Linked DNA regions of Homo sapiens. The protein of the gene in region 1 purifies or fractionates together with the protein of each later gene. This does not show direct contact. Each region holds a gene or a part of one and is shown on either strand. Other genes may lie near its edges.

Region 1 (4,293 bases):
AAATTGTGATACCTACCCACACTACAAGACTTTGTATTAGAAAAAAATGCCTGTAATACTCAGCAGAGTGTGTGACACATGCTGTCATTCAGCAAATGGCAGCTGCTGTTACAACTGTTGAAGACACTACGTCCAGGCCCTGTGAAGAATACAAGAAAAAGATCTTTTAAATGATCTCATTAAGAAAAAACTTTTAACTTAAAAATAGCATAAAACTGTATATAACCTTCTAAAATGTGAAATACAGACAGAACCTCAACTCTTTAAGAACCAGAGGTTGACAAGCTTTTTCTGTAAAGGGCCAGATAATATTTAGTAAATATTTATGGCCATGGGATATCTGCTGTAACTATTCAATTCTGCCACTGTATCATGAATCATGAAAGCAGCCATAGACAAGACATAAAGGAATGTGTGGCTGTGCTCTAATAAAACTTTATTTAAAGCAACAGGAGGTGAGCTGTGGTTTGCCAATCCCTGTTAGTGTTCCTTGAAGAATTTAGATAAGAATATGAAAAATAATTGGTTTGCTTTACTTCCAAAAATGCAAGTAAACATGAGAAACTATTCCTTGATACTTAGACACTGTTTCCTGACCATCCTTTAAAAAATTAAAATCACTCCCACACTCCCAGTCCTCCTGCCCCATAGCACATCTTACCTTCTGACATTCTCTTTATGTCTATTATTTATTGTCTGCTTCCCTAAAACATAAGTTCCATGAGAGCTGGTGTCTTTGTTGTTTTTTTGTTTTTTTTTTAATTTACCAATGTAACCAAAACTCCTAGAGTAGTGGCAGCCATATACAGTAGATCCTTCATAAGTATTTGTTGAATGAGTTGAATAAAACACCAGCTCTGTCTTCATGGGACACAAGTAACCATGAACTGTCTCACCCACTTTTCCTCAGCAATCTCCTGATTCCTGCCTACTTTCTCCTTTATGCAGTCACAGAATCTTGTGCTTGGCTTATAGTGGTTTGCAACTACTAGTAGAACATGTCTGTTTCTATTAGTAGTTTATAAGCAACTTGAGGAAAGGGACTGGGTCATATTAGTAATCTCCTTCTGCAGCATAAAGCTGGGTGCTCAAATGTCTTTTGAATGTATAAGTGACAGGATGTGATCTTAATTCACGCCACCATCCCATCCCCCACCCCCTGCCCTGCTCCCATCTGACCTACAGCTACAGTATCTCTACGCAATGAGCTATTCAGCCTCCACTCACTTCCGAAACTGCTATTCTGAGAACCTATAATTTACCAAGTTCCAGCTCTACCCGGGGCTGGATGCTAGGTCAATGTAAGAGCAAAAGGATTTAGGATTATGATTACCACTCAGTTTGTGATACAGTGTACTGAAACAGACCGTGAACTCCAGAAATTGTCATACAATGCAGAAGGTTAAGTTCAGGGGACAGGGGCAGGAACTGTGCCTTAGTCACCTTTGTACCCACTCCTCAGTGTCTAACACAGCACCTGGCACATTATTAACATTTTTTTAAAGCTCGAATCAAGTGCTAAGCTGTGGACTAAGGACCATATATGAATCATCTAATTTCACTTCACATCATCCTTATTTTAGAGATGAGAAAGCTGAGGCTCAGAGAAATTAAGTATCTTGCCCAAGGGCACACAGCAAGTAAGTGGCAGAACTGGGGCCTATGCCCATCACTTCAAAGTCAGTGCTTTTAACCATTATACTATTACTGAAGGAAAAAAGGAGAGAAGACGGGAAGGAAGGAAATAAAAACAGTACCACTGAAGTTCACATGATACAGATGTATCTCCCTGATGAAATCAGGGCTGAGAAGTTTCAAGGAGGAGTAGGTATTTGACCTAAGGTTTGCAGGATGGGTAAGACTGGGACTTGCAGAGATAAAGAGGCAACTACCTACTGAGAAGACAGTGCAGCTGAAGTACAGAGGCACTTTCATATCACACTGCAGAGATCTGGGGGGAAAAGGGGTCTATTGGGCTTTGTCTTCCTGGTGGCTCAGCTGCACAGAGAGAAGCAACGGTGGAAGGGGCTGAGAAGTGGAGGAGGGGCCAGGTCTAAGAAGTTAAGAGCCAAGAAGATGGGGCTAGTGATCACAGATGATGAAGGTGAAGCGCCTAGGTTAAAGGCAAGGGGCCAAGCCATAGTGCGGTATGGAGGTCCGAAGTTACAGGTCTTTGGGGCCAAGTCAAGGGCTGCAGGGAGGAAGAGGAGAGAGGAGCTATGAAAGACCAAGAGCAAGGTGCTAACAGGGTAATTGTACAGGGAAGCTAGATAACGGGTCAGAGATACAGGAGGACCAAGGAAGTCAGAGGGTCGCAGGAGACGGTCAGGGAAGAGGAAGCAAAGGCTGCCAGAAGTGTCACAGGCCAGGGCCCAAGAGCTGAGTTGTGTGTTGCGGGGCGGGGAGAAGCCAATGGCGGAGGTCCAAGGGTACAAGAGCTGGTTTCAGAGATTGCCGGCGGGCTTGGGGCCAGAGAGGTGGGAGAGGAGGAGGGGCTGATCCTAAACGTATGGTCAGCGGCAGGAAGGCTGTATACTCAAACCCAACAGAAGGGCCGGGGAATGGGTTGGGGACAGCCACCTGGCTGCGTGGGCCGGGGGCCAGGGCGAGGGTCGCGGCGGAGGGACCACAAGGCCCCTTGGCTTCCCACTCGGTCCAGGGAGCAAAGCAGCAGCATCCAGATCCTCGGTGAGAGGGAAGTGGCCGTGTACAGAGTTTCCCGCGAAGTCGTGTCCGCCTCCCCCCGCGACCTCGGGCCCAACCCGGACCCACCTCGCTCCCGCCGCTCGATCAGGGACAGCGCCGCCTCTGTAGGCGAGGGAAGGAGCTGGAGCCGGAGCCGGAACCCAGGAAGGATCCGCCCTACTACTCCAGGATTGGTTTCTTGGGATAATTCTTTATTTCCATTGGCTACCATGACTGCCACAACGCAAGCGACCTGGCAGGACCACCAATAAGCTTTGACCGCTGGCGTGGCATGCTGGGAGTTGTAGTCCTAAGGAAGCGCGTAGACTCAGAGAAAACTTGCGAAGTTTAGGATGGAGCTGAAGAGACTGGGTTCCGTCCTACGGTGGGATTTCTTTCCGTGCTCGCGCGTTCAGCCCCAAGTCTCAGGGCCACTCGTCTGGGAAGTTGTAGAATCTGTATAGCCAACCTACACAACCTCCAAGGGGGCAAGTACTCAAATTTCCTTCTTTACTTTGAGTTGGTAATCCTTGACCGTCCTGTAGACGTCCAACGAAGCCTAGAGTCTGGCACCTCACTCAAGGTTTATAACTTAAAATCAAAGGAGGGTAGAGCTGGAAGGGAGTTTAAAGATAAAATAACCCAATCTCCTTATCGGAGAAGCTAAAAGTACCCTGTTCAAGGATCAACCTCCAGGTCTTCCAGCCCCCCTGAGCAGGGATTTTCCCGGGTTCCGCGTGCATCCCTAATTAAGCCTGACACGTGTTCGTCAATCCAGACACAACAAGATCACCAAAGTATCCAGGACTAGGTCTTTTTTTTCAGGTTTTATTTTTTAAAATAATAAAAGGCTAATGAAATACGTAAACTACAGGCTTCTCGTATCTGCACAATGTTTCAGTGCAAAGAACAAGGAGCATTGCCTTCAGAGCTAGATAAACCAAGTATAAAACTCTGGCTCTACCACCTAGCCATTTGGAGTACCAACTCCCTCCCCCATAAAATCCCTGGCAGAATTACTGTGAGGATATTATATATACATACATATATTCTCATGCATGTGTATGTGTATACATATATACATATATATGTATGTATGTTTTATATAGTTGTAAGGTTATAATACATACATATATTGAGGTTATTTCTTGATGACATTAATATTCAAATCAGTAGACTGATATGTATGTACATATATACATGTATAATACACATACATGTGTATATACATATACTAATGTATACATGTGTATATACATGCATACATGTGTGAATATGTATTATACATACATATGTATATATGTGTATACATATACACGTGCATACATGCTAAATACATATACATATATATACACCTATGTAGTACAGATATGTATATACACATACATGTATACATGTGTATATGTGTATGTATGCATATGTGTGTGTATATTATATGTATATTCATGTATGTATGTGTATATGTATGCATGTATTCTGCCTCCACAAGCTGACAATGTGAGTTAGTTTTAAGATTGGGATATTCAGGAATGCATGTTTGGAACTGAATATGGTTGAGTGAAATATGTGTGCCTTATGAACACTATTTGTTTATAAATTGATAAAATA
Region 2 (3,568 bases), 7.8 Mb from region 1:
TTTTTTAAATGGAGTCATGCGCTGTCACCCAGGCTGGAGTGCAGTGGCATGATCTGGGCTCACTGCAACCTCCACCTCCTGGGTTCATGCAGTTCTCCTGCCTCAGCTTCCCGAGTAGCTGGGATTACAGGCGTGCACCACCATACCCAGCTAATTTTTGTATTTTTGGTAGAGATGGGGTTTCACCATGTTGGCCAGGCTGGTCACGAACTCCTGACCTCAAGTGATCCGCCTGCCTCAGCCTCCTAAAGTGTTGGGATTACAGGCGTGAGCCACCACGCCTGGCCTGCTTTCCAACTTTTATGCTAAATTCCCATCTACTATTTTACTTTAGCTTAAAGAATTTCCTTTAGTGGCCGGGCGTGGTGGCTCACCCCTGTAATCCCAGCACTTTGGAAGGCTGAGGCGGGTGGATCACCTGGGGTCAGGAGTTCCAGACCAGCCTGGCCAACATGGTGAAACCCCGTCTCTACTAATAATACAAAAAATTAGCCAGGAGTGGTAGTGCATGCCTGTAATCCTAGCTACTCAGGAGGCTGAGGCAGGAGAATCACTTGAACCCGGGAGGTGGAGGTTGCAGTGACCTGAGATTGTGCCATTGCACTCCAGCCTGGGCAGCAAGAGTAAAACTCTGTCTCCAAAAATAAAAAAAGAATTTCCTGTAGCATTTCTACAGTGTTTTCATTTGTCTGAAAATGTCTTTATTTTGCTCTTAATCTTGAAGGATATTTTTACTGAATATAGAATTTTAAGTAGATTTTTCCCCAGCACTTTAAAGATATTACATTGGCTTCTGGGGTTTTATTGTTTCTTTTCTTTTTTTTTTTTAAGACAGGGTCTCACTGTCCCCCAGACTGGTGTGCAGTGGCTTGATCACAGCTCACTGTAGCCTCACCCTCCCGGCTTAAGCAGTCTTACCACCTCGGCCTCCCGAGTAGCTGGGACTCCAGATGCATACCATCATACCCAGCTAATCTTTTAATTGTTTTTAGAGATGGGGGTCTCACTATGCTGCCAGGGGGTGGCCTCGAACTCCTGGGCTAAGCAGTCCTCTGTCCTCTACCTCCCGACATGTTCAAATTGCAAGTGTGAATCACCACACCCAACCTTAGTGCTTTTAAGATTTTCTTTTTGGTTTTCACCAGTGTAACTATGACATGCCTACTCGCGTTTTTCTTTATATCTTATTTGTGATTCACAGAGCTTGAATTCATGTGGTTTGATGTTTTTCTTCAGTTTTAGGAAATTGTCCTAAAAAATTGTAGGTATTTTTTGTTTTTGTTTTTTTTCGAGACAGTGTCTCAGTCTGTCACCTAGGTTGGTGTGCAGTGGTGCGATCATAGCTCACTGTAACCTGGAACTCTTTCCTGGGCTCAGGTGATCCTCCAGCCTCAGCCTCCCACATAGCCTGTACTACAGGCATCCACCACCATGCCCAGCTAATTTTTCTAATTTCTTTGTAGAGATGAGGGTCTCACTATGTCACCCAGGCTGGTCTCGAACTCCTGGGCTCAAACTCCTGCCTTGGCTTCCCAGAGTTCTGGGATTATAGGCGTGAGCCACCTTGCCTGGTATTTTCTTTCAAATACTGCTTCTTTTGCATTGTCTATTTTCTCTTATCCTAGAACTGAATAAGAGATCCCACGTGGCACATTATTCTAGATTCTTATTCTAGAACTGAATAGGAATCCCACATGGCACATTATTTCAATTTTCCATCCTTTTATCTCTGTGCATCAGTGTACCTTCTAGCTTGTCTTCTTCACTAATTTGATATTCATCGATTGAATTCTTAACTTCCTCACTGTGTTTTCCAATTCTAGATTTTCCATTTAACTTTTTTTTTTTTTTTTGATGGATGCCAGGTCACTACAGAACTTCTCCATCTTTCCTCTGTTTTCTCAAACATAACCAAGTCCTTGCCTGACAAGAACAATATCTGAGTCACCTGTGGGTTTGTTTCTATTGCCATTTTTTTCCAGTCAGTTTTGGGATTTTAAAAATTCCTCTTAGTCCATAAATTATTACTGGATTCTGGAAATTTTGGATGAACATTATTAGCATCCGGATGTACTTCCTTCAAAGCAGACTAAGGTTGCCATTAGGCACGTGGATAGTAGTAGCAGATGACATTGATCCTGTTGAGGGTTGATTATAGGTCTTGTTAAGACTGGTCTATTTCAGTTTGTCCTTTCTTCTTGGAAGTGGTCTCTTTTCCTCCTGGGGCATAGCCATTACTCCTAGGGCAAGGCCCTCCTTGAGTCTCAACCCGAAATCCAGGTCTTTACCAAAACCCCTCTATCTTGCTGGTCTTAAATTTCAACTCTCAACTCAGCATAGCTGCTATAATCTTATTAGCTCTTTGACGTTTAACTGCTGTGTTCTGTTAAGTTTTTGAAGTCTCACTCTGTAAATGTGCAGTTTAGGAGTCCGCCAATGACTTGGAGGAGGGGAGATTTCTATGCATATTATTTTTCTGTAGTTCCCTCCTCTCCCAGATTGTGCCTCTTGAGTTCCAGCTACTTTAGAATCCAGTACTTCTAACTGTCTCCTGCTGTTTTCTGCTTGGGTTTCCACTATTTTGTCATGGAAAGTCCCCTTACCAGTAAAGTCTGTTAAATTTTGTAATTAATTCCAGTGAAAGGATTTAGTATGCTAAAGGCTACTCTGTTATGCCTGGATTTATCCGTTTTTTGTTTTGTTTTGGTTTGGTTTTTTTTTGGAGACAGAGTCTCGCTCTGTCGCCCAGGCTGGAGTGCAGTGGCACTGTCTCAGCTCACTGCAAGCTCCGCCTCCTGGGTTCACGCCCTTCTCCTGCCTCAGCCTCCGAAGTAGCTGGGACTACAGGTGCCCACTACCACGCCTGGCTAATTTTTTGTATTTTTAGTAGAGACAGGGTTTCACCGTGTTAGCCAGGATGATCTCGATCTCCTGACCTTGTGATCCACCCGCCTCGGCCTCCTAAAGTGCTGGGATTACAGGCGTGAGCCACCGCGCCCGGCCCCCATATTATTTTTACTTCATGCTAGTCTGTTAAAATCTGGAGCTCAGTTGGTTTCCAAACTGCATAGGATCTGATTAGGCAGAAATGACTTTGGCAGGAAGGAAAGCAGTATGAGGACAAGTAAAGTGAGGAGGTTAAGGTGCAGCTGATTCTTTGCCTTGACATCTGTCTCCCTTTCCCTCTGGCCCAAAGAGGAGGATAGTGTTTTCTCCTGTGGTTGTTGTAGATCTCCCTTTGGCTGCAGCTGTCCTTTCCTGACCCTGAAACCACCTCCATGACTACATTCCAGCTTCAGGGACAATAGCCTCCTTCCTTGAACAGTCATTCCTAGAGCTCTCTTGGGCCTGCCCTTTCTTGCCTTTGGTGTGGCACATGCCAGCCACCTAGCTCTAATAGGGAATTATTGTTGTTAAATCAGTATTCTGTACCCCTCATTCCCAGCCTAGTTTTGAAATGTACTTGTGGTTGGAGTGCTAGGTTCACACTGGCCCCTAGCATTTGTGGGGTCCTTGCTAAGAGTATGAATGGAAGCCCACATACTCTGTGTCTAAATATTTAAAAGTT
Region 3 (3,568 bases), about 31 Mb from region 1:
TAAGGTTATATAACACCTAAATTTACTGTCATGACAAAGTTTTAGTAGGTTTCTATTAAATAAATTGTGCTTTTTTAACTTTGTTTTTAAGGAAATGGAGGATCAACACTTTGTGCCCTTCAATGTTTGGAAAAGCTATATGGAGATAAATGGAATTCTTTTACCATCTTATTAATTCACTCTGGTAATGTTATACTTTACTAATTTACATTTTCTTTTTAGTCTTCCACCTTTAATACTTTAGAGACTTTTTTCTTTCTTGCAAACACTTTCCTTCTTTTTTAAAAGAATCTTTGAAGTTATTCTGCTTTGAAAACAAATATTTTATGATTTTCATGACTTTTTTTAGGTTGTAAGTAGTATAGTGATTTTCACAAATTTTACTCGTAAAATTGTAGATCACGTATATCGTCAGTCTTTTATGAATATTGTTTTGTTTTGGGTATGTATATAGAAAATTATTTTCCTAAGACAACTCATTCAAATATGAATAGTTCTCGGGAATACTTTAATGGGGATTTTTCTTTTAATTTTAATTTGTATTTTAAGTTCCAGGGTCCATGTGCAGGTTTGTTACATAGGTAAACGTGTGCCATGGTTGGTTGCTGCACCTGTCAACCCATCACCTAGGTATTAAGCCAGCATGCATTAGCTATTTTTCCTAACACTCTTTCTCCCTTAATGGGGATTCTTGCTTTGAGGGAAGGGTGGTTTAACACTGTCATTACTAGACTTTTGCCAGTACTTTTTATCTTGCATTTTTGTGTGATTATTGATAGCCAGAGGCCACAATGCTTAAAAATAAAAGGAAAATGTGACAAGATACAGAGTGGACAAGTAAATATATAAAAGAGAAATCACACACACAAAATAAGACATTTTAAAACAGAAAAGTAGGAAGGACATGGTCTCAGAATGAAGAATAGCTTTTTAAATTGAATACATTTAGTTGTGTGAAAATTTTGGTTACATGAAAACCTTTGTTGTTTTTCTATGTATGTTAAGGGGCTAATGAAAACTGTCATGAACTGACACCAGTCCAGGGACAGGTATTTTAGAATTATTCATCTACATGGCTTCCAAGGCACTTTTTCATTCTTATGATTTACATACAAAACAATGATTCTTTGTAAAGATGATGTCAAAGTAAAGCATCCAAGTTCTGGTTTGAAGCCTAAAAATGTGTAAAACAATCTAATTTACAATTTTATTTAAGAAAATAATTATTATCAGTTTAGTAAAAATTAAATTAGATACCAGGAAATGCATAGTTAGATAATTTTTTTATTTTTATTTTTTGGAAATAGATAATTCTTAGTGCTAAACTTGACTATTGGCTGCTCTTTGAAAAAAGAAAAAAACAGAAACTTATTAGCTCTCTTTTGTTGAACAATGTACTGTGTGCTGCCAAGTGCTTTACAGGTATTATTGATCTTCAGTAATAAATTAACCTTAGCTTACTATAACATTTTTACTTTATAAACTTCTTAATTTTTTTGACTCTCTTGTAATAACATTCAGCTTAAAACACAAACACTGTACAGCTGTACAAAAATATTTTCTTTATATTGTTAGGGTTTATTTTGTTGTTTTTATTTTTACTTTTTAAATATTTTGGTTAGAAATGAAGACACAAACATATTAGCTTAGGCCTACACTGGGTCAGGATCATCAGTATCACTACCTCTATAGTCCTACTAAAGTTCAGGAGCTGTCATCTCCTATGATAACAATGCTGCCTTCTGAAAGACCTCCTGAAGGACCTGCCTGAGGCCATTTTATGCTTAACTTTTTTTTGTATGTATCATATGAATTTATTCTAAAATAACAATGAAAAGTATAGTATAGTAAATACATAAACCAGTAAAATAGTCATTTATTACCAATTATTATATACTATATACATAATTGTATGTTCTGTAGTTTAGTAAACTGGCAGCACAGCAGGTTTGTTTATACCAGCATCACCACTTGAGTGGTGCATCGTGCTAGGACTTTACAATGGCTCCAACATCACTAGGTGATAGGAATTTTTCAGTTCCATTATGATCTTATGGGACAACCTATGTATATGCTGTCCATAATTGAGCGAAATGTTGTAAAGAAGCAAGTATTTTAGCATTAGTATATTAGTTTTCTATAACTTTTATTTTCTGTGAAGTAGATTTTTTTTTTTTTTTGAGATGGAGTCTGGCTCTGTCGCCCAGGCTGGAGTGCAGTGGCACGATCTCCGCTCACTGCTGCAAGCTTCGCCTCCCGGGTTCACGCCATTTTCCTGCCTCAGCCTCCAGAGTAGCTGGGACCACAGGCGCCCGCCACCACGCCCAGCTAATTTTTTGTATTTTTAGTAGAGATGGGGTTTCACCGTGTTAGCCAGGATGGTCTGGATCTCCTGACCTCGTGATCTGCCTGCCTCGGCCTCCCAAAGTGTTGGTATTACAGGCTTGAGCCACCGCGCCTGGCCTTCTGTGAAGTAGATTCTTAATTAGAAGTCTAAACATGGTTGAAATTTGTTGTTTAAAATGTAGATACAGGCTGGGTGTGGTGGCTCACGCCTGTAATCCCAGCACTTTGGGAGGCCGAGTTGGGTGAATCACCTGAGGTCAGGAGTTTGAGACCAGCCTGGCCAACATGGTGAAACTTCGTCTCTACTAAAAATACAAAAATTAGCCAGGCGTGGTGGCAGGTGCCTGTAATCCCAGCTACTCGGGAGGCTGAGGCAGGAGAATCGCTTGAACCTGGGACACGGAGGTTGTGGTGAGCCAAGATCGCACGTCACTGCACTCCAGCCTGGGTGACAGTAAGACTTCATCTCAAAAAAAAAAAAACAAATGTAGATGCAACATCATGTTTTGGGCCGTGGTCCTTCTTATTTGTTATACATGTAATTCAAAACATTTCACAGATTCTACAGTATATTTAAATTTTTTCCTGACCTACAGTTTTTAAAATTGTCTTATATCAAATGGCAACAAGAAAATTTCTCTTCGAATTTTTAATTTGGATTTCATTATTCTTTCCTGATTTGCAGTAACAAGTGGCATATATTAAATATCGTTAAATATATTTTGATTTGTAACTTATGGGTTATAAAACCCTGGGGTTTTGAAAATTTTATAAATAATACTGCATTTTTAAATGGTTATTTCGTTTTAATTTTATAGGTGGCTACAGTCAACGACTTCCAAATGCAAGTGCTCTGGGAAAAATTTTCACTGCTTTACCTCTTGGTAACCCCATTTATCAGATGCTAGAATTAAAACTAGCCATGTACATTGATTTCCCCTTAAATATGAATCCTGGAATTCTGGTTACCTGTGCAGATGATATTGAACTTTATAGTATTGGAGAATTTGAGTTTATTAGGTTTGACAAACCTGGCTTTACTGCTTTAGCTCATCCTTCTAGTTTGACGATAGGTACCACACATGGAGTATTTGTCTTAGATCCTTTTGATGATTTAAAACATAGAGACCTTGAATACAGGTCTTGCCATCGTTTCCTTCATAAGCCCAGCATAGAAAAGATGTATCAGTTTAATGCTGTGTGTAGACCTGGAAATTTTTGT
Region 4 (3,568 bases), on another chromosome or scaffold:
CTCCGGGAAGGACTTGCTGAGGGTGTGTCAGGGAAGAAGGGGACCCTCTGCCCCTGACCCATGGTGGTCCATCTGCGCCCCTGGTGGGGAACTGAGGACCTTTGTGCCATTGTGAGTCGGGGGGGGCACCACGAGGGACTCGAGTGGAAATGCCGGGTGCAGGTCAGTTGGAGGAGCGGCTCCACTGATGTTAGACAAGTGGGACAAGGTGTGAAGCCACAGGATGGGAGGGGCCCTTGGGCAGGGCACAGACAAGGGTGTGTCCTTCAACACAAAGGATCTCGTAGAGGAGGGGAGGCCTCAGCCAGCACTGACAAGAGGAGGGTGAGGGCAGAGAGGGGAGCCTGTGGCCTTGGAGGCCTCACTGAGCATTCCAGGGGCACGGAAGGGTCAGTCCCACAGCTGGGCTGAGGAGCAGCCGGGAGGTGGGCCGTGAAGCAGGGCCTCTGGGAGGGCCTCTGTGTGCAAGCGGGTGGAGCTGGGGCCTGAGGAAGGAGAAGGTGCAAGCCCAGCCCCCTGGGAAAGTGGAGGTTGGAGACCAGCTGGGGTGCCACCCTGGAACCCATGGGGAGTGAGGTTTAACCAGGGAAATTTGCTCCAGATTGTTTTAAATGAACTCTTACACTACTAAGAGTGACATCATCTAACACGTTGGAGAGTAAGTAGCATTAATAGATAGGAGACACATTTTTACTCAGGCCAGTGTTGGGTGTGTGGGCTCATGGCTGGGCTCACAGCTTAGCTGCCTCTGGTGCAGCCTCCAGGCAGGGCCCAGCACACTAACACGTGTGGTGCAGGCAGGAGTGGTTTAACTGCTTGTTCACAATTCCTGTGCTATCCTGGTTTTGCCAAATTCCAAGAGAAGTTGGAAATCGGGATTTGCATATGAAGCCACCCAGTTCTAAAAGGTTGGCAACTTAGGTTTTAGGTAAAACCATTTTATGGGTGATGTAAATGGGTAAGAATGAGAGGCACACGGGTCCAGGCACGGTGGCTCACGCCTGTAATCCCAGCACTTTGGGAGGCCGAGGTGGTCGGATTACCTGAGGTCAGGAGTTTGAGACCAGCCTGGCCAACATGGTAAAACCCTGTCTCTACTAAAAATACAAAAATTAGCCGGGCGTGGTGGCACACACCTGTAACCCCAGGTACTTGGGAGACTGAGGTGGGAGAATCGCTTGAGCCCAGGAGATGGAGGTTGCAGTGAGCCGAGATTAGGCCACTGCACTCCAGCCTGACCAATGGAGAGAGACTCTGTCTCGAAAAAAAAAAAAAAGAAGAATGAGAGGCACACGGGGCTGTGAGTCTGGGATCAGTGTCCCTGACAGCCTTGAGGAAGACCCTGGCCTGTTCAGCCAGCCCTAGCCTTAGGCCACACAACATTCCACGTCCCCTTTATTCCTCTCCTGCTTCCAACTCTTCCCTGTGAGGCAAAACTTCCTTAAGACTATCCCGGCTGGGTGCGGTGGCTCACGCCAGTGGTCCCAGCTCGAAGTAGGATTGCCGCTTGAAGCCAGGAGTTCAAGACCAGCCTGAGCAACATAGCAACACCCGCCCCTCCCGCCCAATCTCTACAAAAAATTTAAAAATCAGCCGGGCAAGGTGGTGTGTGTCTGTAGTTCTAGCTGCTCAGGAAGCTAAGGCAGAAAGATCGCCTGAGCCCAGGATAAACTTACCTGTGTTTATCTTTCAGGATGCTTAAATGGCAGAGGCCAAGCCCAGACTCCAGACGGACATGCGGATAAGGCCCTGCTGCGGCAGATGGAAGGCATTTACGCTGACATCCCTGTGCGGCGTCCGGAGTCCAGTGCACACGTGCAGGAGCTGTACCAGGAGTGGCTGGAGGGGATCAACTCCCCCAAGGCCCGAGAGGTGCTGCATACCACGTACCAGAGCCAGGAGCGTGGCACACACAGCCTGGACATCAAGTGGTGAAGTCAGGCCAGGGCCTTCCAGCTGCTCTTGGGGCCAGAGCCAAGAGCCTCTCAGTAGAGGGAGGGGCTGCCCTGAGTGGAGTATTAAAGACACTTAAGAAAACCGCTCAATGGATTACTTTGGTTTCTCCGAGTTCCCTGCTACCCCGTTTATTGGAGGCCCCTCAGGCAGTTTCATGTGGTGCTATCTTCATAATAGGTGTGGGATTGGAACTTTTTTTTTCTTTTTTTTTTTTTGAGACGGAGTCTCACTCTGTCACCCAGGCTGGAGTGCAATGGCGCAATCTCAGCTCACTGCAACCTCTGCCTCCCGGGTTCAAGCGATTCTCTTGCCCCAGCCTCCCGAGTAGCTGGGACTAACGCGCACACCACCATGCCCAGCTAATTTTTGTATTTTTAGTAGAGATGGGGTTTCACTATGTTGGCCAGGCTGGTATTGAATTCCTGACCTCCTGATCCACCCGCCTTGGCCTCCCAAAGTGCCAGGACTGCAGGCATGAGCCACCGTGCCTGGCAGATTGGAACGTTTTAACATGAGAGGAGCACTTCCCCAATTTATCCCTTCATCCTAAGATTGTGAAAAAGTCCCAAAGAGTGGGAATGGAGACAGACTACTGTATTTTAGGTTTAAAAAGAAAAATCCAGAAAGTGTCCTGTGAAGAGCTAGGACCCCCAGAGGTTCTAATGCACATGACTTGAAGGTGATTTGATGTGGGAGTGAGGGCAGAGGGTGGGGTGGCTGTGCCTGTGGACTCCTGTGGCCCTGGGGTTGTTAGGGCAGGCAGTCCACAGTCCCAGATCCCTGCCCATTTTGGCTCTTTCTTTTACCCACTCATATTTTCCTTGAAAATGTTTTTGCCAGAACATTAATAACTGTCAGCCTTTTAGAATCAGGAGACTTACGTACAAATCTGGATTTTCAGCTTTTCTTAGAAAAACTGTAGTTTCTGACAACAGTAGGCCCCATTCCTCACAGCCAGTCACCACCCTCCTCCCATTCCTCACAGCCAGTCACCACCCTCCTGGACCATACTCGGCCCTGGGCCATTCCTCACAGCCAGTCACCACCCTCCTCCCATTCCTCACAGCCAGTCACCACCCTCCTGGACCACACTCGGCCCTGGGCCATTCCTCACAGCCAGTCACCACCCTCCTGGACCATACTCAGGGCCCTGGAGGCCTGGCAACCCAGGCCCCAACTCAAACTTGTACATTCAGTCTTTCAGTCGGACTCGCACTGGGGCAAGGGTGACAGACACGAGAATGGAAAATTGAGAAGGCTGCCCGCACCAGCTGGGTGGGTGCAGGGGGCCCCAGCTCATCATCAGCACTGTCGTGGGGTGGGAGTCGGGGGTAAAGGTTCCGTCTGACCCTGAGGGGTTGAGGATATTCAGGTGGTCCAGCCTCCCGCAGAAGACTTCCCTGTCACCCTTGGCAGACAGGTTTCTTCTCACACGGCCCTGGCCCATCCACTCGCCATGAAGCCCTCTGTGCTCAGGGTGATGGAGCCCCCTCCATTCTGGCACTGCACTGTGGGCATGAGCTTGCCTTAAAAAGAAAGGAGAGGCCAGGCACGGTGGCTCGTGCCCTATAATCCCAGCACACTGGGAGGCCAAGGTGGGAGGATTGCTGGA

What was found.
Region 2: the proteins of ZNF691 (region 1) and ZMYM1 purify together in Homo sapiens (affinity purification with mass spectrometry; one large-scale study listed by BioGRID and IntAct). This does not show direct contact.
Region 3: the proteins of ZNF691 (region 1) and FPGT purify together in Homo sapiens (affinity purification with mass spectrometry; one large-scale study listed by BioGRID and IntAct). This does not show direct contact.
Region 4: the proteins of ZNF691 (region 1) and NARF purify together in Homo sapiens (affinity purification with mass spectrometry; one large-scale study listed by BioGRID and IntAct). This does not show direct contact.

The regions. Positions count from the first base shown.
Region 1 is NC_000001.11:42,845,137-42,849,429, reverse strand, and holds the start of ZNF691 (zinc finger protein 691), read right to left. Parts: upstream 2,818-4,293; 5' UTR 2,773-2,817; exon of another isoform or gene 140-2,772; 5' UTR 89-139; coding exon of another isoform or gene 17-88; exon of another isoform or gene 1-16. UniProt on the Homo sapiens protein: May be involved in transcriptional regulation.
Region 2 is NC_000001.11:35,082,344-35,085,911, forward strand, and holds part of ZMYM1 (zinc finger MYM-type protein 1), read left to right. Parts: intron 1-3,568.
Region 3 is NC_000001.11:74,201,227-74,204,794, forward strand, and holds part of FPGT (fucose-1-phosphate guanylyltransferase), read left to right. Parts: intron 1-91; coding exon 92-184; intron 185-3,164; coding exon 3,165-3,568. Other genes in the region: FPGT-TNNI3K fusion protein, read left to right, coding at 92-184. UniProt on the Homo sapiens protein: Catalyzes the formation of GDP-L-fucose from GTP and L-fucose-1-phosphate. Functions as a salvage pathway to reutilize L-fucose arising from the turnover of glycoproteins and glycolipids.
Region 4 is NC_000017.11:82,486,223-82,489,790, forward strand, and holds part of NARF (nuclear prelamin A recognition factor), read left to right. Parts: intron 1-1,693; coding exon 1,694-1,935; 3' UTR 1,936-3,568.